3 linked regions of the Homo sapiens genome follow. The protein of the gene in region 1 binds, or shares a complex with, the protein of each later gene. Each region holds a gene or a part of one and is shown in the gene's direction. Other genes may lie near its edges. The genes, in order: RPTOR, RICTOR and MAPKAP1.

Evidence for each region.
Region 2: RPTOR (region 1) and RICTOR share a complex: the UniProt entries of both Homo sapiens proteins name them as parts of the mechanistic target of rapamycin complex.
Region 3: RPTOR (region 1) and MAPKAP1 share a complex: the UniProt entries of both Homo sapiens proteins name them as parts of the mechanistic target of rapamycin complex.

What each region holds. Positions count from the first base shown.
Region 1 is NC_000017.11:80,547,298-80,555,376, forward strand, and holds part of RPTOR (regulatory-associated protein of mTOR), read left to right. Parts: intron 1-8,079. UniProt on the Homo sapiens protein: Component of the mechanistic target of rapamycin complex 1 (mTORC1), an evolutionarily conserved central nutrient sensor that stimulates anabolic reactions and macromolecule biosynthesis to promote cellular biomass generation and growth.
Region 2 is NC_000005.10:38,938,400-38,946,478, reverse strand, and holds part of RICTOR (rapamycin-insensitive companion of mTOR), read left to right. Parts: coding exon 1-11; intron 12-754; coding exon 755-988; exon of another isoform or gene 989-1,410; coding exon 1,411-1,566; exon of another isoform or gene 1,567-1,909; coding exon 1,910-2,033; exon of another isoform or gene 2,034-2,245; coding exon of another isoform or gene 2,246-2,278; intron 2,279-3,507; coding exon 3,508-3,646; intron 3,647-4,100; coding exon 4,101-4,175; 3' UTR 4,176-8,079. UniProt on the Homo sapiens protein: Component of the mechanistic target of rapamycin complex 2 (mTORC2), which transduces signals from growth factors to pathways involved in proliferation, cytoskeletal organization, lipogenesis and anabolic output.
Region 3 is NC_000009.12:125,668,431-125,676,509, reverse strand, and holds part of MAPKAP1 (target of rapamycin complex 2 subunit MAPKAP1), read left to right. Parts: intron 1-1,212; exon of another isoform or gene 1,213-1,356; intron 1,357-3,866; 5' UTR 3,867-3,935; coding exon 3,936-4,194; intron 4,195-6,602; coding exon 6,603-6,692; intron 6,693-8,079. UniProt on the Homo sapiens protein: Component of the mechanistic target of rapamycin complex 2 (mTORC2), which transduces signals from growth factors to pathways involved in proliferation, cytoskeletal organization, lipogenesis and anabolic output.

The sequences.
Region 1 (8,079 bases):
TATGAAAAGACTTTTTAAAAAATTCTTTGTGGAGGGCAGTTTTTTTGTTGTTGTTATTTTGAAATGTGGTTCTCTCTGCTGTCCTAAACCTATGTTCCAACAGTTTGAAACTGATTAATGGGTATACGTTTGACCTTTTAATTAAAACATTAATTTGTGAATGATCAACATTCCCTAATAAGCTTTTCACAGGTTGTTAAGAGAAACAAAAGTTCTGTGACTCTTAGTGACTACTGAGATTGCTGCTTAGAAAGGAGCTGGGGAGAAAGTTTGCTGTATCTGTTTTTCGGTGGAGAAAATCAGCAGCTAACATCTTCAGTTGAGTGTGTGGGAGTTTGGAATCTTGTCATCTCTTCCCTCTTCCAAAGGTCAGGTCCTTTGGAATCTTGTCATCTCTTCCCTCAAGGACCGTATCACACATGCTATAGGACAGAAGTTGCAAACTCAAATGATATTGAGTGGGGATGGTAGCATAAGAGAATGAAACAGGCCACATTTAAGAAGAATAATGGCATAGGTTCAAAGATAAAGACAAATGGCAGCTGACATTTGGCACAGTGTGTGTGACAGTTTCTGGAGGGTGGGAACAGGGGCTCCCTGATGCCATAACTGAAGGGGCAACTGGGCTATGGCCAGGCCTCTCTCTTTGTCTTTGAGAAGTCAGCAAACTTTTTTTTTCTTTTATTGTAAATATTCATACTAATTCAGATTTATTACCAAACACACTGTAGTCCAACACTGCAGGCTGAACAACCCCATTTGTGGAGTGTTTTTCTGTTTCTTTTTTTTTTTTTTTTTTTTTGAGACAGGGTCTTGCTCTGTCATCCAGGCTGGAGTACAGTGGTGAGATCACACGGCTCACTGCAGCCTCGACCTCCTGGGCCTGAGTGATCCTCTCACCTCAGCCTCCCCAGTAGCTGAGACTATAAGTGTGCGCCAGTGTGTCTGGGGTTGGGGAGTCTCACTGTGTTGCCCAGGCTGGTCTTGAACTCCTGGGATCAAGCAATCCTCCTGCCTTGTCCTCCAAAAATGCTAGGATTACAGGCATCAGCCAACACGCTCAGCCTGGGGTGGTTTTTTTTTTTTTTTTTTTTTTTTTTTGAGATGGAGTTTCATTCTTGTTGCCCAGGCTGGAGTGCAGTGGTGTGGTCTTGACTCACTGCAACCTCCGCCTCCCAGGATCAAGCTATTCTCCTGCCTCAGCCTCCCAAGTAGCTGGGATTACAGGCGCCTGGCTAGTTTTTTTTGTATTTTTAGTGGAGATGGGGTTTCACCATGTTGGCCAGGCTGGTCCTGAACTCCTGACCTCGGGTCGTTCACCTGCCTCAGCCTCCCAAAGTGCTGGGATTACAGGTGTGAGCCACAGCACCTGGCCCTGGGGTGTTTTTTGACCAGTGGGTTACCTACGTAAGAATCTCTGTTACCCAGGCCTCCAGGCCACACAGTCCCACTGTGCTGGACGTAGCCTCCAGTCTGGTGGAGCAGCATGTTTGTAAAGTGAAATGTGTGGGCGTGGTTGTTCTGTGCTAGGAGCTACATCAACTACTTCCTGGTGGCCACTGACTGTCCTAAATGCAAGCTGAGATTTTGCTTCTTCTTGTGGTTAATGTGCAATTCCATACGCTTTTATTTTGTACATATATTCATTAGTTCTTACTGGCTCCTATTTAGTAGCCTTGCTACAGATTCCTCAAATTGACATCTTTACCAAAGTTGACTGACTGATGACTCCCAAGAAGTTTTTTTTGCCACCCAACACTTGGCATCCTTCCAGAGCTACAGCCCTTGCCCGCTCTCAGTTGGGATTCCTGCCATCTTTGTTTTGAATCAGTCTTGGTTTTCAAATGCCACTTTTACCACATTTTAATTTCTAAGTTACTGTTACTTTAAAATTATTATCAAGTTAGTTTGTTGTTTGGTTAATTCTACTATGTATAGTGAATGAGGCATATATGTATCCATAGTGTTTTTAGCTTGCAATTTTCAAATAACTAGACATATATGAATTGTAGTTCAAAATGAATCATTCACAGACCTTTGGCTAAAACAGATACGTATATATCTCCCCTATTTGTGTTTTTGGCTCACTGCAACCTCCGCCTCTTGGGTTCAAGCGATTCTCCTGCCGCAGCCTCCCGAGTAGCTGGGATTACAGGTGCCCACCACCATGCCTGGCCAATTTTTTTCATATTTTTATTAGAGACGGGGTTTCACTATGTTGGCCAGGCTGGTCTCAAACTCCTGACCTCAGGTGATCCACCTGCCTCGGCCTCCCAAAGTGCTGGGATTACAGGTGTGAGCCACCGTGCCTGGTCTAACTGTGATACTTTATAGTTATCACAGAGTTCATTTTCCTACTGGAAAGTGGACAGTGGGGATAACTGGTCTCAGATGACTCTTTTGCCTGGAATATGTGGGATGGAATGACGGGTGCTTGAGAGCTATTGCTCTGAAAGTGTTGACAGACATGCTATGTCTACACACATGTAGACTGACAGACACTCTGTCTACATGCATGTAGCACCCCTGGCAGACACATTCTGTGTACACATGTGTGGTGTCATTGTCAGACACTATTTCCATGCATGTGTAGGACCACTGACAGGCATCCTATGTCTACATGTGTAGGGGATGAAACGGTTAGATGAAGAAGGCTATTTTGTAAACCATTCTCTAGACTCAGTTGCATTGCTCTGTAGCCATACTTTGCCCAGGTCATGGAGGAAGCAGAGTAGATCTGTTCAACTAATACATGGACTGCCAAAGGTTTATGCGGTCTTTTCAGCAAGGGTAATAGCAATCCTTCATAATCTACACTACCCCCTCTGCTTTCCTCACCTTGCGTCCTCTCCACATTCCAACTGTGCCCTGTTCCACTCCCCTGAGACTGGTCTCCATATGGCCCCAGTTTGTTGCTAAATCTAAAGTTCTCTTCTCTGTCCTTCTCTGTTCTTATTTCACCTCTCAGCAGCATTCCACAATGTGGACCATGGCCTCTTCATAAAGCTCTTTCCTCACTTGCTTCTGTGTCTCCACGAAACTCGGATTTTCCTCTTAGGTCACTAGTTGTTCCTTCTCAGACTCCTTTGCTACCTGACACCTAAATGCAGGGGCACCCCAGGAATTGATCTTGGACCCCATTCTCTGTTCTGGGTGTGCCCCTCCCTAGCAGATCTCATCGGGGCCCATGATTTTAAATAGTGTCTACATGCCAGTGATGCTTAAACCCCCAATCTTTAGTTCTGATCTGGCCTGAAATTTCTGTCTCAGATGCCTACTGCCTGCTTTTTCTTAGTTTTCTCCATCACCGCTTGCCACAACCACCATCCACTCAGTTGTTCAAGCTGTAAGTTTAGAGTTTATCCTTAATTCTTTCCTCTCCCTCTCTTTATCGCCCCATCCAATTCATTAGAACCCATCAGCGTTACTTCCAAAGCATGTCTTACATTGGCCTGCTTCATTTTGTCTCCACTGATGCAGCCCCAGTCCAGGCAGCCACCGTCTCTTGTCTGGACACTGCATTTGTGTCCTGACTGGTCTCCCTATGTCCATTCTTGCCCTACAACCAGTTTTTCACATAGCAGTCAGAGGGATCTTTTATTTATTTTGAAATGGAGTCTCTCCTTGTTTCTCAGGCTGGAGTGCAATGGCGTGATCTCGGCTCACTGCAACCTCCACCTCCCGAGTTCAAGAGATTCTCGTGCCTCAGTCTCCCGAGTAGCTGGGACTACCAGTGCATGACACCATGCCCGGCTGATTTTTTGTATTTTTAGTAGAGATGCGGTTTCACCATGTTGGCCAGGCTGGTCTTGAACTCCTGAGCTCAAGTGATCCTCCCACCTCAGCCTCCCAGAGTGCTGGATTACAGGCGTGAGCCATCACACCTGGCCAGAGGGATTTTTTGAAAGTGTGAAGGGGTGGGTTGCCCCTCCACACCTGTGGGTGTTTCTTGTTAGGTGGGACGAGAGACTTGGAAAAGAAAAAGAAACAGAGACAAAGTATAGAGAGAGAAATAAGGGGACCCAGGGAACCAGCGTTCAGCATATGGAGGATCCCGCCAGCCTCAGAGTTCCCTTAGTATTTATTGATCATTCGTGGGTGTTTCTCCGAGAGGGGGATGTGTCAGGGTCACAAGACAATAGTGGGGAGAGGGTCAGCAGACAAACACGTGAACAAGGGTCTTTGCATCATAGACAAGGTAAAGGATTAAGTGCTGTGCTTTTAGATATGCATACACATAAATATCTCAATGCTTTACAAAGCAGTATTGCTGCCCGCATGTCCCACCTCCAGCCCTAAGGCAGTTTTTCCCTATCTCAGTAGATGGAACGTACAATCGGGTTTTATACCGAGACATTCCATTGCCCAGGGACGGGCAGGAGACAGATGCCTTCCTCTTGTCTCAACTGCAAGAGGCATGCCTTCCTCTTCTACTAATCCTCCTCAGCACAGACCCTTTACGGGTGTCGGGCTGGGGGACGGTCAGGTCTTTCCCTTCCCACGAGGCCATATTTCAGACTATCACATGGGGAGAAACCTTGGACAATACCTGGCTTTCCTAGGCAGAGGTCCCTGTGGCCTTCCGCAGTGTTTGTGTCCCTGGGTACTTGAGATTAGGGAGTGATGATGACTCTTAAGGAGCATGCTGCCTTCAAGCATCTGTTTAACAAAGCACATCTTGCACCGCCCTTAATCCATTTAACCCTGAGTTTGACACAGCACATGTTTCAGAGAGCACGGGGTTGGGGGTAAGGTCATAGATTAACAGAATCTCAAGGCAGAAGAATTTGTCTTAGTACAGAATAAAATGGAGTCTCCTATGTCTACTTCTTTCTATACAGACACAGTAACAATCTGATCTCTCTTGCTTTTCCCCACAAAAGTGTGAATCAGATTCTGTTACTTCCTTACTGGTGGTCTCCATTGGCTTCCTCTGTGCTTAAAGTAGAACTCAGACTCCTCTTGCTGGTTCACAAAGCCTTCATGATTTGGCCTCTGCCTGCCTTTTCTGCTTCTTGGATAGAAACTCCTGGAATGCTTTTCTCTCTGATCTTTGCACACCTGGCCCCTTCTCGTCGTTCATACTTAGCATCTAGGTCCCTTCCTCAGAGAGGCCCACCATCACCCCATCTGAAGCAGCCACCCTGTCACTCATAAACCCTCCTGATGGCTATTTATTTCTCTGATATTTTTCTCCCTACTTCCTCCTGGAGATGTGAGCTTTTCATCATAAAGCAAGGACCTAGTCTAGTCTATGCTAGTCCATAGGGCAGTGCTTGGCACATAGTAGGGATTCAACAAAACTATACTGATACAAAATGGATAGTTTACAAAAGGCTTCCACATACATTATCTTTAAGGCTCAACAGCACCATAAATTACCTAGGGATCATTCTCTCCGTGTTACTGATGAGGTAACTGACGTTTTAGTTGAATGGCTTACCTAAAGTTACATAAGTAACATGGCTAGCAGTGAGAGGAAGTGGAACCTGTGCAGAGGGAGAAACAAAGTTTAGTTCAAAACAAAACAAAACAAAACTGTATCATAATGTCTCCACTGAAACATTTATGTTAAGAGGTCAGGGGGTTGAAAATAGCAGACCAGCAGACCAACATTCAGCAGACAGAGAAGGATGCTCAGTCTGCTCACAGCATGTGCCCTGTGCACTGGGGCTTCTCCTAGACCCTTGCAGGGATCCACAAGGTCAAAACTGTTTTCATAATAATGGAACACCATTGGCCTTTTCCACTCTGTTGATACCTGCACTGACAGTGCAAAAGTGATGAATCAAGACAGCGGTGCCAAGCTGTACTACTAGTTCCTGATTTCTTTGCCATGCACATGGAGAGAATGTCCTTGCTAATAAAGCAGTGAAAATGATGACTTTTACTAAATCTTGACTGTTAAGCACACATCTTTTTCAGACTGTGTGTGCTGCTCCTTCTCCTGCAGGCAAAGCCCAGTGGCTGCCTGGAGGAGGAGCATCTGCTGCCTTCATGGACGCAGCACGTCCCAAAGGAATCACCGACAGGCCGCCTCTGGATGTTGAGGCCTGTGTCCACGGCAGACGTGTTTTTGAAAATGAACTTAGTGAGCTGTCACTTCAAGGAATACAGCTGACAGTATTTGCTGCCAGTCATGAAATTTGAACCTTCAAGTGAAAATTGGTTTTGGAAAACTTGTATCTGCCGCTGTGAGCCTGGCAGCTTCCCAAGACTTAAAGATGTTTCTGGTGAGATCCATAGTGATATTAATGAATGGAATTAATGTTGTAGAATGAAATGTGCCCACATTTGGAACAGCTGCATAATTCAGTGAACAAATATTTCCAGATGACCAATCCATGATATTATAAAATCATCCATAGGTAAAAGATCCGTTCAATGTTAGACCAGTGGATTTTAATGTAATAGGGTACAAAAAGTTCACCAGAGGATAGGTGTTTTTTTTTCTTTTTTTTTAAGACGGAATCTTGCTCTGTTGCCCAGGTTGGAGTGCAGTGGCGCGATCTCGGCTCACTGCAACCTCCGCCTCCCAGGTTCAAGCAATTCTCCTGCCTCAGCCTCCTGAGTAGTTGGGATTACATGTGCCTGCTACCACGCCTGGCTAATTTTCATATTTTTAGTAGAGATGGGGTTTTGCCATATTGGCCAGGCTGGTCTCGAACTCCTGACTTCAGGTGATCCACCTGCCTTGGCCTCCTAAAGTGCTGGGATTACAGGGGTCAGCCACCACACCCCGCTTGATGTTCTGTTGTGTGCGTGTGTGTATATTTTTTGTTGTTATTTGTTTGTTTCACAGTTCACTGCATCCTTGACCTGGGCTCAAGTGATCCTCCTGCCTCAGCCTCCTGAGTCGCTGGGACTACAGGTGTGAGTCACCATGCCTAGATTTTTTTTTTGGATTTTTTGTAGGGATGGGGTCTCACTATGTTGCCTATAGTGAGAGTTTAAATATTTTATTCAAATAGATTGCAACAGATCTTTAAGAAACTACCACTTACTCAATTTTGTTGTAATATCAAATAATAATATTCTCAATTATTTGGATATTCTGATACTCCTGCCATTATGTATCTTTGTGAGGCCAGATTTTTCTCACATACTTCAACCAAAACAGTGTATTTCAACCCATTGAATGTGGCACCAAAAATGAGAATCCAAGGTGGGGTGCGGTGGCTCACACCTGTAATCCCAGCACTTTGGGAGACTGAGGCGGGCAGATCATGAGGTCAGGAGATCAAGACCATCCTGGCTAACACGATGAAACCCCATCTCTACTAAAAAATACCAAAAATTAGCCGGGCGAGGTGACGGGCGCCTGTAGTCCCAGCTACTTGGGAGGCTGAGGCAGGAGAATGGCGTGAACCCGGGAGGCAGAGCTTGCAGTGAGCTGAGATTGCGCCACTGCACTCCAGCCTGGGTGACAGAGTGAGACTCTGTCTCAAAACAAAACAAAACAAAACAAAACAAACAACAACAACAACAAAAAAAATGAGAATCCAGTTGTCTTCTATGAAGCTGGATATTAAAGAGATTTGCAAAAATCTAAAAAAAGCCACCTGAGACAAGTGACAAGATAACTGACAATTTTTGAAAATATAGTTATTTGTAGAAATGTTATTTATTTGAATATATAATAAGTTTGATTTTTAAGTGAATTCATAAATATATCAATTATGTTTTTCTGTTTTAACCTTCAATACGGAAAATGTTGATAAATGAAACTCATAAAAAAGCTCTTTGAGGGTCTTCAGGAACCTTTAAGACCGTAAAGGGGCCCTGCTGCCAGATGTTTGAGAGTTATTAGTGTAGTTAGAAGAAAGTGGGCCTCATCCTTAGGAAGAAGGGCTTGAGGATATCAGGTGGCTGGTCAGAAATGTCAGGCAGGGCCTTGAAGTGACATTAGATAAGAAACATAAAGGCCCTAATCTGTTGCCCTCTTTCCATTCGCTCTGCCTAAAGAACTGTTGAGGTCTCTGGACTTGGAGCTGGGAGGATGTTTGTGAAGAGCCTGTGTGATTGTGAGGGCAGTGGCCTTACATGTGGCCACCTAGCCCTCCATCAGGTCCTTCTATT
Region 2 (8,079 bases), on another chromosome or scaffold:
TGATGCAGGAGGTAATGCATTGTGCATTGTACTTGTGAGATGCCTCTTTATATTAAAAAGAAAACTCTTAGTTCTTTCTAGTAGGATAACACTAAAAATTTAGGAAGACTCACTTTTGGATCAACTTTAAAATTATACCAAAACAATTGTTAAAGTCAGCTTAAAATTAAACCACATTTTTGTGTATGTGTGAGGGACTTAACAGTGTTTTCAGTGAAGTACTCAACCTTTCAAGGAAATAGAAACCAAATTAGTTGTTTCTGTTTTTTAAAAGTAGCACATGAACAATGTATAACACTAATCCTCATAGATCCAGGAAATAGCTGTTTGTTTAGAGTAAGGAGAAAGAAATGTACTTATAAAATACACGGTCTTTGTTTTGAACTGTTATATTTTAATATGTAAATATAAGCCACAGGTTTTATAGCTTTATATTCTTAATGACTTTTTAAACAAATGCCTCTTTATACTTAGAATTATTACATATCTTTAGGCAAATATTGACGATAATTGAAATGATGTATTATATAATCTCAATTTTCCATTTTGTATTTAAAACACTATATATTAAAATAATAAACATCTGCTGGCTTTCCTTATTTTTATAACTTAAAGCAAATTATTCTTTTTTTCTTTCCAGTTAGATTTTGAGTCATAAAATGTGCTTAAGCTTTCTTTAAAATTTCACATAATTTAAGGTACCTTGAAAAGTATTATCTTTATTGGATTATGTTTTATATTTACTTATGCACAGGTCTTCCATCTGGAACTGGAGGTCTTGTAAAAAATTCTTTTCACTTGCTACGACAGCAGATGAGTCTTACGGAAATAATGAATTCAATCCATTCAGATGCCTCTCTGTTTTTAGAAAGTACAGAAGACACTGGACTACAGGAACATACAGATGATAACTGCCTTTATTGTGTCTGTATTGAAATTCTGGGTTTCCAGCCCAGCAACCAACTGAGTGCAATATGTAGTCATTCAGGTAAGTGATCACGTCCCACCTTCAGAAAAACCTAGTGATGACTAAAGTTCTCTGGTTTACTTTTCCAAATTTCTTTTTGGTATTCTAATTCAGAGTTTCCCAGCTGGTGAGCTGCAGCACACTGATATGCCAAATTATGTTATGCTGAGATGCTGATCCTCTCACGGTTCCAGGTCACAGTGGGGCCTGAGTCTGACAGATCCCTGGATTAGGTCTTTTCCACTGTGAACAGCCCTGTCCAGGCCCTTTGCATGCTGTAGTTATTTTCATTTTCTATGAGGAAAAAAGTTTTGGAAGTGTTTGGTATATTGCATACAATTAGAGAAGATGTTATTTTATATTATTTCTTTTTAGCATGCAATGTAAGCACAGGAATTAAGCCGTTATGGTGCTTTAATTGAAATAATTATTTTTTTCTTCAGACTTTCAAGATATTCCATATTCTGATTGGTGTGAGCAGACTATCCATAATCCTTTAGAAGTGGTTCCCTCTAAGTTTTCGGGGATTTCTGGATGCAGTGATGGGGTGTCTCAAGAAGGCTCAGCTAGCAGCACCAAAAGCACAGAATTGTTACTAGGTGAGTCTTCAGATTCAAATCCAATCATTATTAGTAAAACTGTTCTGATTAGTTGGTTTTGTTTTGTTTTTCGTAAATACTGTAAATTAAAGTTGTCTCAAAACAGTAATACGTCCATTTTAGTGAAGCAATTTAACACTGTTAATTATTGCACCTATATCACCCACTGACATAGAGCCTCTTAGCTATCTGCTTTTATTAGAGTTTTGCTCCCAAAATGATTGGTAGATCATGTGTAATTGATCTCTAGGTCTTTAGGTGAAGTTTAAAAATAAATTTCATGAGTTTTAATCATTTTATTGTGACATAGATAATATTTAACTTCTCCCTGAAATCTTTTCAGGTGTTAAAACAATTCCAGATGATACACCAATGTGCCGTATACTCCTTCGCAAAGAAGTTCTAAGATTAGTCATTAATTTGAGTAGTTCAGTTTCAACTAAATGTCATGAGACTGGGCTTTTAACGTGAGTAAACTATGTGCATGAGTATTATTTGTTTATTCTGTTTTTTAAGTCGAGAAAAGATACTTGAAATACTTCAAAAGTTAGGCTAGTTAACTTACATCAGTAGTTCTAAACTGCATTGCATACCTGTGTGAGGCTAGATTTTCTTTAATACTTCAGCCAAAACAACATATGGCAACAGATTGAATGTAGAAGCAAGTATGAGAATCCAGCTATCTTCTATTAAGCCAGACTTTTGAAGAGATCTGCAAAAAATGTAAAATAATGCCACTCTTCTCACTTTTTTACTTTTGGAAAATACAGTTATTTTTATTAAAATACATGTTAACATGTAATGGATTTATTTTTAAAATAAATTAATGCATGTTAGGAAATTCTCTCAATTTTAATTTCTAATATAGTAGTTAATGGTGGCTGTAACCCACACAAAAATAAGCTTTTTTGGGTCTTCAGTAATTTTTAAGAAAGTAAGTCCTGAGACCAAAAAGTTTGAGGAAAGTGGGCTTACATGTAACAAGTCATATTTTCTTGGTTTAATTTTTTTCTTATTATTTAAAGCAGTGGTTCTTAAAAGAAATGCACCTCAGGGTCTCCTGCAGGGCTTTTTTATTTTGTATTTTGTATTTCTTTTTTGAGACGGAGTCTTGCTCTGTCACCCAGGCTGGAGTGCAGTGGTGCAATCTCGGCTCACTGCAACCTCTGCCTCCCGGGTTCAAGCAATCCTCCTGCCTCAGCCTCCCAAGTAGCTGGGATTACAGGTGTGTACCACCACACCTAGCTAATTTTTGTATTTTTAGTAGAAACAGAGTTTCGCCAGGTTAGCCAGGTTGGTCTCAAACTCCTGACCTCAGGTGATCTCCTGTCTCAGCCTCCCAAAGTGCTGGGATTACAGGCATGAGCCACCGTGCCCAGCCAGCTGTAGGGCTTTTTTTTAAGGGTGATATAGGTATTGGGGTCCCACATAGGTATCAGGGTCCCACAGCAGACCTCTGGGCTGGGAGCTCTGGGAGCGGGCCCTTAACTGGTCACTCACCCAACTCACAGCTGATTCTGAGGTGCTTTCCTAGCTAAAAGCTGCTATTTGAAGTATCCAAAGAAATAGCCCAGTCAGGGATGTTAATAACTTAACTTTAAAGATGTATTTCTATTTTAAAACTTAATTTGGAACATATTTTAATCATCCTAGGCTGATAAATATATTTTGCAATTTCTCATGCCAATAAAAAAGAATGCTTCAATTTTACAAGAAGTATTCAGGTTTTGATAATCATTTTTTTTAAAAAAAAACCCAAACTCAGAATGTCTAAGTGTGTGACAGGAATATTTAATATTTTATATTCTCAAGTCATCACCCCAAGTATGCCATCTAATCCATATCTGTAGGGAAATCTATTTTTAAAGTAAGTGATACCTTGGAGGAAAAATAGATACATCATGATTACAGTTTTCATCACACCATAATCTTTTATTTTAGAATTAAGGAGAAGTATCCTCAAACATTTGATGACATATGCCTTTACTCTGAGGTTTCCCATTTGCTGTCACACTGCACATTCAGACTTCCGTGTCGGAGGTTCATACAAGAATTATTTCAAGATGTACAGTTTCTACAAGTAAGTATGATTAGTACTTCTCAAATTTATCTTCCAAGAATAATTCTGTGTTTGAATTGAATTAAAATACAGATTATAGCTGGGTGTGGTGACTCATGCCTACAATCCCAGCACTTTGTGGGGTCAGCGCGGGAGAATTGCTTGAGCCCAGGAATTCAAGACCAGCCTGGGCAACATAGTGAGACCGTGTCAACACAGTTTTTTTTTTTTTTTAATTAGCCGAGGTTGGTGTCATCTGCCTGTATTCCCAGCTACTTGGGAGGCTGAGGTGGGAGGATCATATGAACCCAGGACTCAGAGGTTGCAATGAACAAAGATGGCAACATTGTGCTGCATCCTGGGAAGACTGAGCAAGACCCTATCTCAAAAAAAAAAAAAAATTAGATATTTATATAAATATGTTATATCATCTGTTTTTATAAAAGTAATTGATGATACACCATTTTTTCCCTAGATGCATGAAGAAGCAGAGGCTGTGTTGGCAACACCACCAAAGCAACCTATAGTTGATACATCTGCTGAATCCTGACCTCATATTTATGATGGATATAGATACATACTATATATATTCATATTTGTGGATTTCCTAAAAGCCTCAGAAAATACGACTGACTAGGCAGCAAAGACAGGAGTATCTTCTGTACACTGTTCCGCAGTTACTGGTACATGAACAGTTGGAACTGCTGACTTTCCTAACCAAAACAACTTCCTTCTCTCCTTTGTTGAGCCTTTTGAGGGGTTCATGATTCATTACCACAGTTTTAAGAGTTTCAGTTACCATTGTATGCAAGAGCCAAGCACTGAATACCTACATAGGTTTTCTATTTTCTTTCATTTTAAAAGCATAATGACAGTGGAACAATAATGGGATATGCAGAAGCACCCTTCACAAGTTATTTCTGAATGATTTTTAGGGTAAATAATACAGATGCCTTGTTTGTTAACTAACTTGTGGAAAGCAGGAATCAGTGTCTCTAAGGCTGCATCCTATTACCACAATGGGGTGTGCTATAACTGCTGGTATTAGAGAGGGAACTTTGGCCCTTTCACGTTTTTCTTAATGTTTGTAACACTACTTCAGAGGTTTATAACCTCAAAGCAGAAGAAGAGCCTCAACAACCCGGGACTTATAAGTTATTTTTATGTTACTAGACTTGCATAAAGATTCTTGTTTTCCAACTCTTCATTTTGTTGCAATGTGTTATTACAGGATATATGAACCAATTAAGGTTTTTCACTACAGTTCTTGAATAAAATTTAAAAATCATTTTTTATTTTAATTAAAAATATTTCCCATTTATAGAATGCATATATTTGCAATGGACTTCCACTTTCATCAACTTTCCATCTCATCGCTTTAAACAGGAACTTGAACAAGCACTGTTAGTTTAGACCTAAAGGATAGGAAAGCATTAAATAATACTTTGGATCTCCTGAGGAAAAGATAAGTTTGCTTGCAATTTACACATTCCATGGGGAAAGAAGAGCCATATTTCCTTAAAAAAAACATTAATAAAGCTTGTTATTGAGAAAAATTGTAGTGAAAAGCCTTAAGTACCAAATTTTAAAGCAGCAGTAACTTAATTTTTATATCAGTGTTTTTGTTTTGCACAAACTAAATGCAGTGGTAGGTGGGTTTATGAGTATATTAATTGCCTTTATCCATTTGTGAAGTTAAGTTGATGAGGGCAAGGTTTTTGTTTGTTTAATTTGTATATGTCTAAAGGTATTTGGAACTTTTTACAGGAATTAAACATATATGCAAATTTGTATATAAAAATAGCATGGCCATCATTTGAATGCTTGTAAATGAAAGGATTATCTTTTTTGAGATCTATATATAAATAGAAATAGAAAATCCAGCTGGACTGATTAGGATTCTTTTTTAATTCATTTGTGTATAACATTTTTATTACAATTACACATCAGTTTTGACACAGTCATAGCAACATTAATATTTTCCCATGATGCAGATCCTTTTTGTAATGGGCTTGTTCTTTGAGATCTCTGTAAAGAACCCTGTGAACTAGAAAACATAACTCACAGAGATACTTTTTTAAAAAATTTATTTACTGGAACTGAAAGTTCCAGTTGGGATGAAGCATTTCATCTCACTTCATAACACCTCTTTGACTGCACTTCAGTGAATTGTTCTTATGTGCACTGTGTAGCAACTTACATTATAACAAAGCAGATAAGGGCTGTAAGCTGCTGCTTATGTTGAAAAGTGGTTCTTCAGATTTTCTCTCATAAAATCCAGTTGAAGATAAATAATTTTTTTATACTTTATCACTGAACCCAAGTGTTTATTTAAATGTCAACAGTACTTCTAAGAACGTTGCCTGTCATCGTGGTCTTTGGTCTTGGATAACTAAACTGCCTTTCCAGAGAACCAAATGTCAGAGTTACTAGACCAAATAGTGGTTAAAACCTCCAAAGGAAGTAATGTAATCTTATTCATAATGGGATTAACATATTTTAGACATTCATTTTAAACACTACCTCAGTTAATATAGAGTATAAAAATCTGTGGTTTAATCCCTCAAAAGTTAACAGTAATTTTTTTTTTGTCTTACACACACACACACCCCCTCCCCCACCATCACTATCCCTGTACCCTCACCTTGGTCATCTATCCTGAAATAAGGCTTAGTTAGTATTGGCCTGAATGTTTTGTGTTTTTTTTTTTGTTTTTTTTTTTTACTGTTACTTTGAAAAATATGTATGTATACCTTATCATATCTGCCTATATCACTTACTTTGGGGAGATACTCAGAGCTTTGTGGTTATCAGTATACTAAAAAAAAAAAAAAGTCTACGCTTAAATTTATAGTGCTATTTGGTTTCTCCATGATTTCACTGACAGGTCTAATACATTTTCTTTGAGTACTTGTTTGTAAAAAGTAGACTTTATGGTGAAAAATACATGCAGTGCCAAGTGATTAACTTAAGTGTTTAAAAATATTAAATTATAGCAGAAGAGGTTAGGAATGATATCAGCAGTAATAGAAATAATTGAGAAAATCATCTATAAATAATAGATATTACAGACTATAGAATACCAAAATAATGTCAATACTGTAGTTTTTAAAGATTTTAGGATTAATCTTAGTCCATATAAATTTGTACTATTGGTAATTATTGAATAATTGGGAGGAATCTGGGCAGTTGTGCTGGTTGTAAACTATGAATTTCTAATCGTAAAGTGAATTGTTATTTCTAATTGAACTTTTTTTCAAGAACAGATTTCAGCCTCACATACTAAGTAAATACTGATAAATAAGGAAATTAGAAATTTAGTATTCATAATTAAATATGCTCTAAAATTTCCTATACTTTTATTTCCTGTTTATTCTTAGGTAGATTGGAAGGGGGAAACAGTCTGTTCTCCCTAATTAAATTTTTTCTAATAACGATTAGTAGAATATGGACATTCTATATGACAGTGACATTAAAAGAGGCTCTTTGGAAGTATATACATTATTAACATAATGTGTACAAGTCCTTTTGAAATGACAACTTTAATGGGTTTCAGCTCTTTTATCTAGAGCTTGAGATAATTCAAGCTGAGTTTTTCAGGGCATATCACAACGGCCAAGTGTTCAGCAGTGGGATATCAATGCTTATTTACATTTTCCTACTGCTATTTATATAAAATGTTATTCCATTCAGAGGATGCCTTTTATCCCCACATTAAAGCACAGATCATTAAGCAATAAAAACCAAATTGTCTGTCATTCAAATTATAACTGCAGTTATTTTTGCATGGTAAGAGTGAGGTGCTAATTTTGTGTGAGATGAACTTTGTAAACTACTTTGGGAAATGTTCTTTGGAAGTAAGGTTTTTTCTCCTTTAGTCTTATGCTTCCACTTTTGTCTCAGATTCACAATCCATTAAAACATGGGGAAAAAAGAAAAGGTAAAATTGAGAGACTTTTGTTAGAGGAGCTATTTGGAATGAACCAACATTTCAGATTTTCCAAAATGTAAGTTAGGAAGTCTCCATTGTCTCTGCATTAACAAAATACACTGTTACTATCTTAATCTCAAGAGTGTCATTACAGTGAGAATCTCATTTAAAAGCATACCAGTGAAATTAATAGCAGTGCTTATCAAAGAACACTGAAATCTGTGAGAATCTTTCTAGGAGCATTCTTTTCTTCTTTTAGTTCCAAGTTCCAGGGTATTTTTCATTCCTAGTAGGTTTATATGACTCACAGAATGTGGACTTTTTTCCTGTTTGGAGTATTTTTGTAATGTAAGTATCGGATAGCTGCACCACAGCATGCATAAATTGCACATTTTGTTTTACTTTCTTTATAGAATATTTAATTTCAAAAATATAATTTATGCCAAAAAAAGCATACCTTTCAATTTTGCTACTTGGTTGATTTAGCACAAAATGCAAAGTCTTGGGGCAGAGAGGGGGAGTG
Region 3 (8,079 bases), on another chromosome or scaffold:
TTTCACTTAGCGTAATGTTCTCAGGGCTCATCAATGTTGTAATGTGTCAGAATTTCCTGTGTTTGAAGGCTGAACAATATTCCATCGTTATATACCACATTTTGTTCACCCTCTACCATGTATTGTTAATCGCTACTTAGTATTGTGTTGTTTGTATGTGTCATGGCATATGTGTACTATTGTAGGTTCCTTTTAGATTTCCAGTATTACAAATTACTCTGAGATAAATATTTTACACAATTATCTCCTTAGAACAAATCCTAGAAGTAGGATTGCCCAGATAGTATTCATGTTTTATATTTTGGTAAATATTACCAAATTACCGTCTAAAAAGTCCCAGTTTTCATTCCTTCATATTGTGCATGAGAGTGCCCATTTCTCTGAACCCTTGCCAGAGTTAGATTTTTAAAAATCTTTTTGATCTGTGCACAACTGATCAGAGAGTACAATTTGTTTTTATCCGTGATATGTATGTCCTTGTCTTGGAAATCAAACATAGCTTCAAATGATAATTTGCTGCTCTTTGGGAGATTTTTTAAAATATTCTTTTGGGTTTTGAAAAGTAGTCTTGTTAGAATAAGTTGAATAGTGTTCCAAGGGGACAATTTTGAAGGGCACGTTGAAGAGATGCTCTTGTATTACGAAAAAAAGACAATCCTTTATTTATAATCACACACTTACACCTGGCACATTCATATATGACTTATCTCTACAACAAAATTGAATAGTCCTTGGAAGTTAGACAGCAACATTTATTGAACTCCTGCCATGTATAACAGCCTTTGTTGCCAGAAGGAATATGGTGTTATGAACCCTGTCCTTGTGGAACTTATAGTCTAAGTCTTTAAGTACATGTAATTGGAGGTAAAAAGTGACATACACAATAATATGTTTTCTGGGGCAGTCCTGTGGGAGTTCCATATCAGAGCTGGTAGGGAATAAATATTTTTTGAATGAATCATACAGATTCCTTAATGTATGAAGTCATAGTGTCCTAATAGAGAAGATATCTGCTGCTGTTGAGGCATTTGTTCTGGGAGGATAAAGCTGGGAAGTTGGTATGTGCCTTCAGAAGTGTTTGCCCATTCCTCTTATCTTCAGAAGTGATCTATTTCCCTAGAATAGATTTTATTGAGGGCACTTCAGTATACTTTTGTCACTTTGCCTTTTGCCATTTGACTTTTTGGTGCTAGAACACCTATTAAATATCTGATCACTTCTCGGCCTTTTGGCTAAGATCAAGTGTATTAAATGTGTGACTTCTCATTAAAGCCCTTGTTTTTGCAAGGGAGAACTATTCAGTATGAATTTGAAAGCACCTGCCTCTCTACTGGTGACTAGCTGCCTTCCTTTCATGCCAGGAAGATGGCTTATTGTGATTGCTGTAGAAGGATGTTTGCAGCTCTGATCTGTGATACTATGCTTCCACAAATACTCTCATTTATAAATAAATGTGTGGTGTATACATTTTTTATGGTTATAGAGAAGTTTGTATTTTTACAAGTGAAATTTAAATGCTCATTGTTAATTTCATATTTTTTTCTGATCAATATCCTTAAAATGGTAGATTGACACTAATACTTCAGGGACCAGATATCTCAGAAATTTGATGCTTAAAGGAATCCCATGGTATTAGGAGATGTACTCGGTCTGTATTAGGGTATTAACTTTTTGATTCAGGGATACCTTACTCACCTTTGCATTTCCCATTAGCCTCAGAGTAAAATAAGTACTCAAGGAATATATTAAGAGGAAAAAAGTGAAGATTAATGTAATTTGCTTGATTAGAGATGCTCCTCAGTTAAATTTCTTTTTAATCTCAGTATCTTTATTTTAAGACCCACTTTAAGACACATCAGCAGAATGATGTGTTTCCAGACAACAATTTTTAAAACCTTAGTTAACTGTAAGGATTTATTAGCTAGATTTCCTCTCTATGTTCCATTTCTAGAAGAAACAGATTACAAGAAAATCTGGTGTTATAAGTCCTTCTGAAAGTAAGTATCTTCTAGGACTGTTCCTGGAAACATAGTCAATCCAGCTTTCATATTCCTTGTACTTCTCAACAATTTTGCAGGGGCAGGGAAGTCACTCAGATGACTTGCAGTGTCCTCTATCACAAAGGAAGCACAGACTTATTTTATGTGCCACGAACTTACTAAGACAGATGGGATATTGACATATTTTAGGACTACTTTAAGCAAGAATTGATCATTGAAATTATTGATTTTTTATCATTATTATTAATAGCTAACATTTATTTAATTACATGCCATGTATTTTTTTGAGCATTTTACCTGCATTATCTCCTGAAGCTTCCATTTTATAAATGAAGGAAAAAAAAAAGGGAGGCTCAAAAAGGTAAAGTATTTTGACTGAGATCTTATAGCTAACGAGTAATAGGGCCAGGGTTTGAACCCTTTCTGTCTCTAGGGCCTAGTACCTAACCGTTGTCCTGCAATATTTTCTTTGTTGAGTATTTTCACTTAACTGAGAGGGTGCTATCTTGTTACTAGAACAAATATTATTACAGTGTTTTTTGTATGTTTTGTTTTGTTTTGTTTTTAGAAGACAGGGTCTCACTATGTCACCCAGGCTGGAGTGCAATGGTGCAATCATAGCTCACTGCAGCCTTGAATGCTGGGGCTCAAGTGATCCCCCCACTTCAGCCTCATGAGTAGCTATGACTACAGGCATGTCCCACCATGCTCAGCTAATTAAAAAATAATAATTATTATATATATATATTTTTGTAGAGATAGAGTTTTGATTGTGTTGCCCATGTTGGTCTTGAACTCCTGGACTCAAGCAGTCCTCCTGCCTCGGCCCCCCAAAGGGTTGAGAGTACAGGTGTGAATCACTGTGCCCGGCCTCATTACAGTTTTAACAGGACTGAGGAAGCAGTTTTTATAATTAAGTTTCTAAAATAAGAAGTTGATTGTATAGTAGGTAATTTTGATTATAAATTTTATTTTAAAAACACAGGCCAGGCATGGTGGCTCACGCCTGTAATCACAGCACTTTGGGAGGCCAAGGCGGGCGGATCAACTGAGGTCGGGAGTTTGAGACCAGCCTGACCAACATGGAGAAACCCCATTTCTACTAAAAATACAAAATTAGCTGGGCATGGTGGCGCATCCCTGTAATCCCAGCTACGCGGGAGGCTGAGGCCGGAGAATCTTGAACCTGGGAGGTGGAGGTTGCAGTGAGCCAAGATCACGCCACTGCACTCCAGCCTGGGCAACAAGCGCGATACCCTGTCTCAGAAAAAACACAACAACAACAACAACAAAAACACAATACTATCTTGACAGGAAAATATATTCATTGAGCAACATTAATTTGGTGGTACATCATTTTTATAAAACCCCTAGTAACTCTGAAAGCATTGTCTGTGCCCTTTTAAACACTTCACAATCATATGACAGGAGGGGAAATGTAAACTGATGAAATAGAGTTTTGTACTTTAGCACATCATTTGAGGAAAATACAACTTGTTCCCCCATGACCTTATAAAGTAATGAGAAGATTGCATGATAGTGAAGGGAGAAAGAAAGGAAAATATATTGTTTTAACAGTAGTTATGTGCTTCGAGTGGCCTGACTTGTAAGGAGTTGCTGTGATTTGTTTTGCAAGAGTGCAAGCCTTCCTTTCTGATTCTATAGAGATCTCATTGACTAGAGCTGCAGCCCCTAGTGCTTATAAGGATTTCCTTTCAGCTTAGACTAAATCCTTTTAAGCTCCACAGAACAGGGATAAATGTTGATTTTCAAGGTGGCATTTTACTACACTGAATGTGTCTGAAAAATGATTCAGTCATTTTCTGCCTTATTCTTAAATATTTGCTGTGTACATCATGTTTCTAGGTAGGTGAGCTCGTGAAACAATATGAAGAGGAGAAAATAGCCTTTTAAGGAAATTGGCCCACAGAAAGGATGGCCTTCTTGGACAATCCAACTATCATTCTAGCTCATATTCGACAGTCACATGTGACCAGTGATGACACGGGAATGTGTGAGATGGTTCTCATTGATCATGATGTTGACCTAGAGAAGATTCATCCTCCTTCAATGCCTGGAGACAGTGGGTCAGAAATTCAGGGAAGCAATGGTGAGACTCAGGGCTATGTATATGCCCAGTCAGTCGATATTACCTCAAGTTGGGACTTTGGTATTAGAAGACGCTCAAACACAGGTAAACATTGTGTTCTAGTCATGTCTTCTGAGCTTTAAATCAGTAAACAGTCTTATGGAATAATGCATAATATTGGAATAGGCTTAATGGGGGATGTTTCCGGGTATTAATAGGAACATGCATATGTCAGACTAAGAGTGAGTCTGAGCAACATCTCCATCTCTGCGACTGCGAATGGAGAGGGCCTCTAGAATATTATTAGAAGTAGACAGAAGGGGGATAGTGAAAAAGTTGGTTAGGAGAGACATGTTGGACATTTCTAACAAGTCATTGTGTAGAAAGGCAAGTGGACTGGCTTTGAGTGTCTTCACACAGCAACATTAGTCCCAGTAGGTAGACTACCCGGAGACAGATTTCAGGTTGACATAATAAAGAGCATTTAATACAGAGAGGTGACCACCCAAAGAGAGCAGGCACTTCTTGCCCCTGGAGGAATTGTGGGGGAGTGGGGAAATGGGAGGAGACACCTGAGTATTTGTTAGGGCTGGTTTTAGTAGGATTCTATACATAGGGTGTGAGATTAGAAAAGGGGCCCCTGTTTTTGATACTTCGCCTTTATTTTCTTAAATTGATCACCTTTTGATTTTTCTGGCTTGAAAACACTCAACTTTGGTATACACGTATTTAGTCATTAGCTTTAAAAGCTTATTGCCCATTTTCCCACTTATATTTTTTTGGTGGCCTTGTTTCAAGGGGAATGTGATGAACCAAGGACTTTTTTTTTTACTTAGACAAATTATTTAGAATACATATTGTAGTTCTAATATGACAGGTATTCTAGGAGGTAATTTTTTTTAGATAATCAGAAAATATAATCTTCAAATTAGCAGTAACCTGCTAACTCCCAGGAAAGGTAATGGCAAGGAGATATAGTAGAACACTGAAAATACTTACATATTTATTTTCATGGTCCAAATGTAAAACACACATAAAGGAATATTGGAGGTAGAGCTGGATACAATTTACTGTGAAAGGCACATTCAAGTTTTGGTTCAGAATTCAGTATCTGTGACATAAGAATAATTTGCTCTCATGATGAAAATAATTAATAGCATTTCCCAGTATCTAAAGGAACTTTTGTCAAAATAGGATTTGAGTGAAGGTTTGAATATAATTTAGAACCATTGATTTTCAGTTCTCTAGTTGAAACTGACTTCCTTGCAGGTTATTGAGATGATATCTTATATGACAGGTTGAATGTATTTCAGTGGGAGAATGCTGCTAAATTGAGAGCTTTATGATTATATTACTTTGGCTGTACCCTTCACATTTATTAATTGCAATTGAATGTAGTTTTCTTCAGTGTTGGTTAGATATAGTGACATTGTCAGAATGCTCTTCCCAGCATAGTTTAAATTTCTGGTAAGATTATTTTCAGTGTTTCCCTACCACAATGCTAAGGCAGAAGTGTATAATTTCCTATCTTGAAAGAGGCGGAAAAAGAGATGTATTTATTTTCTATTAGCAAAATGCTGGGATAGGAAGCTGAAGATTAGCAAGAGAAAACTGATTTCAAGAGATGGCATCAATTGTGACTTTCTTTTTTATTGTGGTCTCTGTATGCGGCAGTTGTTAAGTGCATGCTGGGTGGTATTTCTCTAAAGGATCAGTTCACTGATTTTTGAAGGTTGATCAGCCAGTGGCAATATAATCACAAATGCATAATTTTAGGTGACTCTTGTTGGAATTTCTTTAGGTAGCACTTAGATGCTAATAATTAATTGAGATTGTAGGTTGTCTTAGTGACCAAAGAATTTACTTTTTAATCCATGCAGCATATCTTAAAATTTTGTAAAAGAAAAATTGTTCTTTTTAAGATTTGACTAATGTTACAAAGATACAAATCATTTATTTTACTACCTATAAACTGTTTCAGCCCACTGAAGAAAAGCTATGCTAATTTATATAGCTTTGACATTTTATAATTTTCATGATTTTTAGATAAAGGATTTTATATTTAAAACTTTAATAGTCTAGTCTGAGTTCATTTATCTTTAATTTTTGAAATGGGTAGAGTAATTCATAACAGTAATTTTATTCCTGTAATGTAATATTCACTTCAGTTCATTTGTGCATTAAAATTCCTTTAAGACCGTTATTAATGATTTATATAATGAAATGTCATATTAATCACAGAAGTTTTCACATTTTATTATTCTCTTCCATGTTAATACTATCTTTATGATCTCTATTAGTGTTTTATATCCTCTAATTTCAATTATAAATCAAGAATATTTTCATGTTTTTGTTGGTATTTGCTTTTCAGGGGTGCCACCTTTAAAATTTTATGACTTTTTCTCTACATATGCAATATAAAACATCTTTATTCATGTAAAGGTAGTTAATTATGTCTTTGTTTATGGTAAACTTTCATTGACAAACTTACAGTTATAATATTTCTTTTCAAGCTCAAAGATTAGAACGACTCCGAAAAGAGAGACAAAACCAGATCAAATGCAAAAATATTCAGTGGAAAGAAAGAAATTCTAAGCAATCAGGTAAATGGAAATGATTTTAATTCTTAATTTGAGATTTATATATTTAGTTTATTATATAAGAACTTTTATTTTTAATTCATCCTTTTAAATCCTCTGGACTTAGATACCTCTAGTGTTTTGAGCTTTGAGCTCTTTCTCTTGTGTGCCTTGACCCTCTGAAGCTATATGCTCTTTAGTTCTTGGCTTTTTGGCCACCCTTCACTCTGGGTCACAGGGATTGATGTGTGCAGGGGACATTTTTTACAAGCTGTCATGTCAGTATTTTTTTCTGATTTTTTAAAAAAATATAGGCCAAGGAGTACCCTATGATTTGATTTTTATTATTATTATTTTTTTTGAGATAGTGTTTCACTCTTTTTGCCCAGGCCGGAGTGCAATGGCACGGTCTTGGCTCACTGCAGCCTCTGCCTCCCCGGTTCAAGCGATTCTCCTGCCTCAACGTCCTCAGTAGCTGGGATTACAGGCGCATGCCACCACACCTGGCTAATTTTGTATTTTTAGTAGAGATGGGATTTCACCATGTTGGCCAGGCTGGTCTTGAACTCCTGACCTCCAGTAATCCACCCACCGTGGCCTCCTGAGGTGCTGGGATTACAGGCATGAGCCACTGTGCCCAGCCGATTTTTTTTTTTTTTTTTGAGACGGAGTCTTGCTGTGTCACCCAGGCTGGAGTGCAGTGGTGCCATCTCGGCTCACTGCAGCCTCCGCCTCCCTGGTTCAAGCAATTCTCCTGCCTCAGCCTCCCAAGTAGTTGGGACTACAGGTGCACACCACCATGCCTGGCTAAGTTTTGTATTTTTAGTAGAGATGGAGTTTCACCATGCCAGGCTGTTCTCGAACTCCTGGCCTCAAGTGATCCACCTGCCTTGGCTTCCCAAAGTGCTGGGATTATAGGCGTGAGCCACTGCGCCCAGCCCCTGTGATATTTTGGATGAGTTTCCAGGTTACAGATTTCTCTTGGCAGTTCCAACCTAGACTTTTCCTTGCCCCATTAGTGGGCCTAGTAACAGTCTTTTTTGCATATATGCAAATTCTTTTCCCTTAGTGTAAAAACCATTATGTTGCTGGTATTATTAGCATTTGCTGTATATTTTCATATAGTATGTGTATAAAGGCTGGCCATATTATATACTTTCAAAGCTTCAGTCTCAGCAAGAAGAAAAGACTTGGGGAGAAAAACAATTTCAGAAATAAAATGCTATTAAAATATTTTATAGTGGTTATATCATGTTTCCTAGACTTTCTCTTTTTCTTCTCCTTTAAAAGAAATATCTGCAGTCTGTCTTCTGTATCCTCCCAGCACCTCCCAATATCATATCGGCATGTAATAGATGCCTAATAAATATTTGTGGATTGGCTCCATTGTTACACAATAATTATAAGTCTA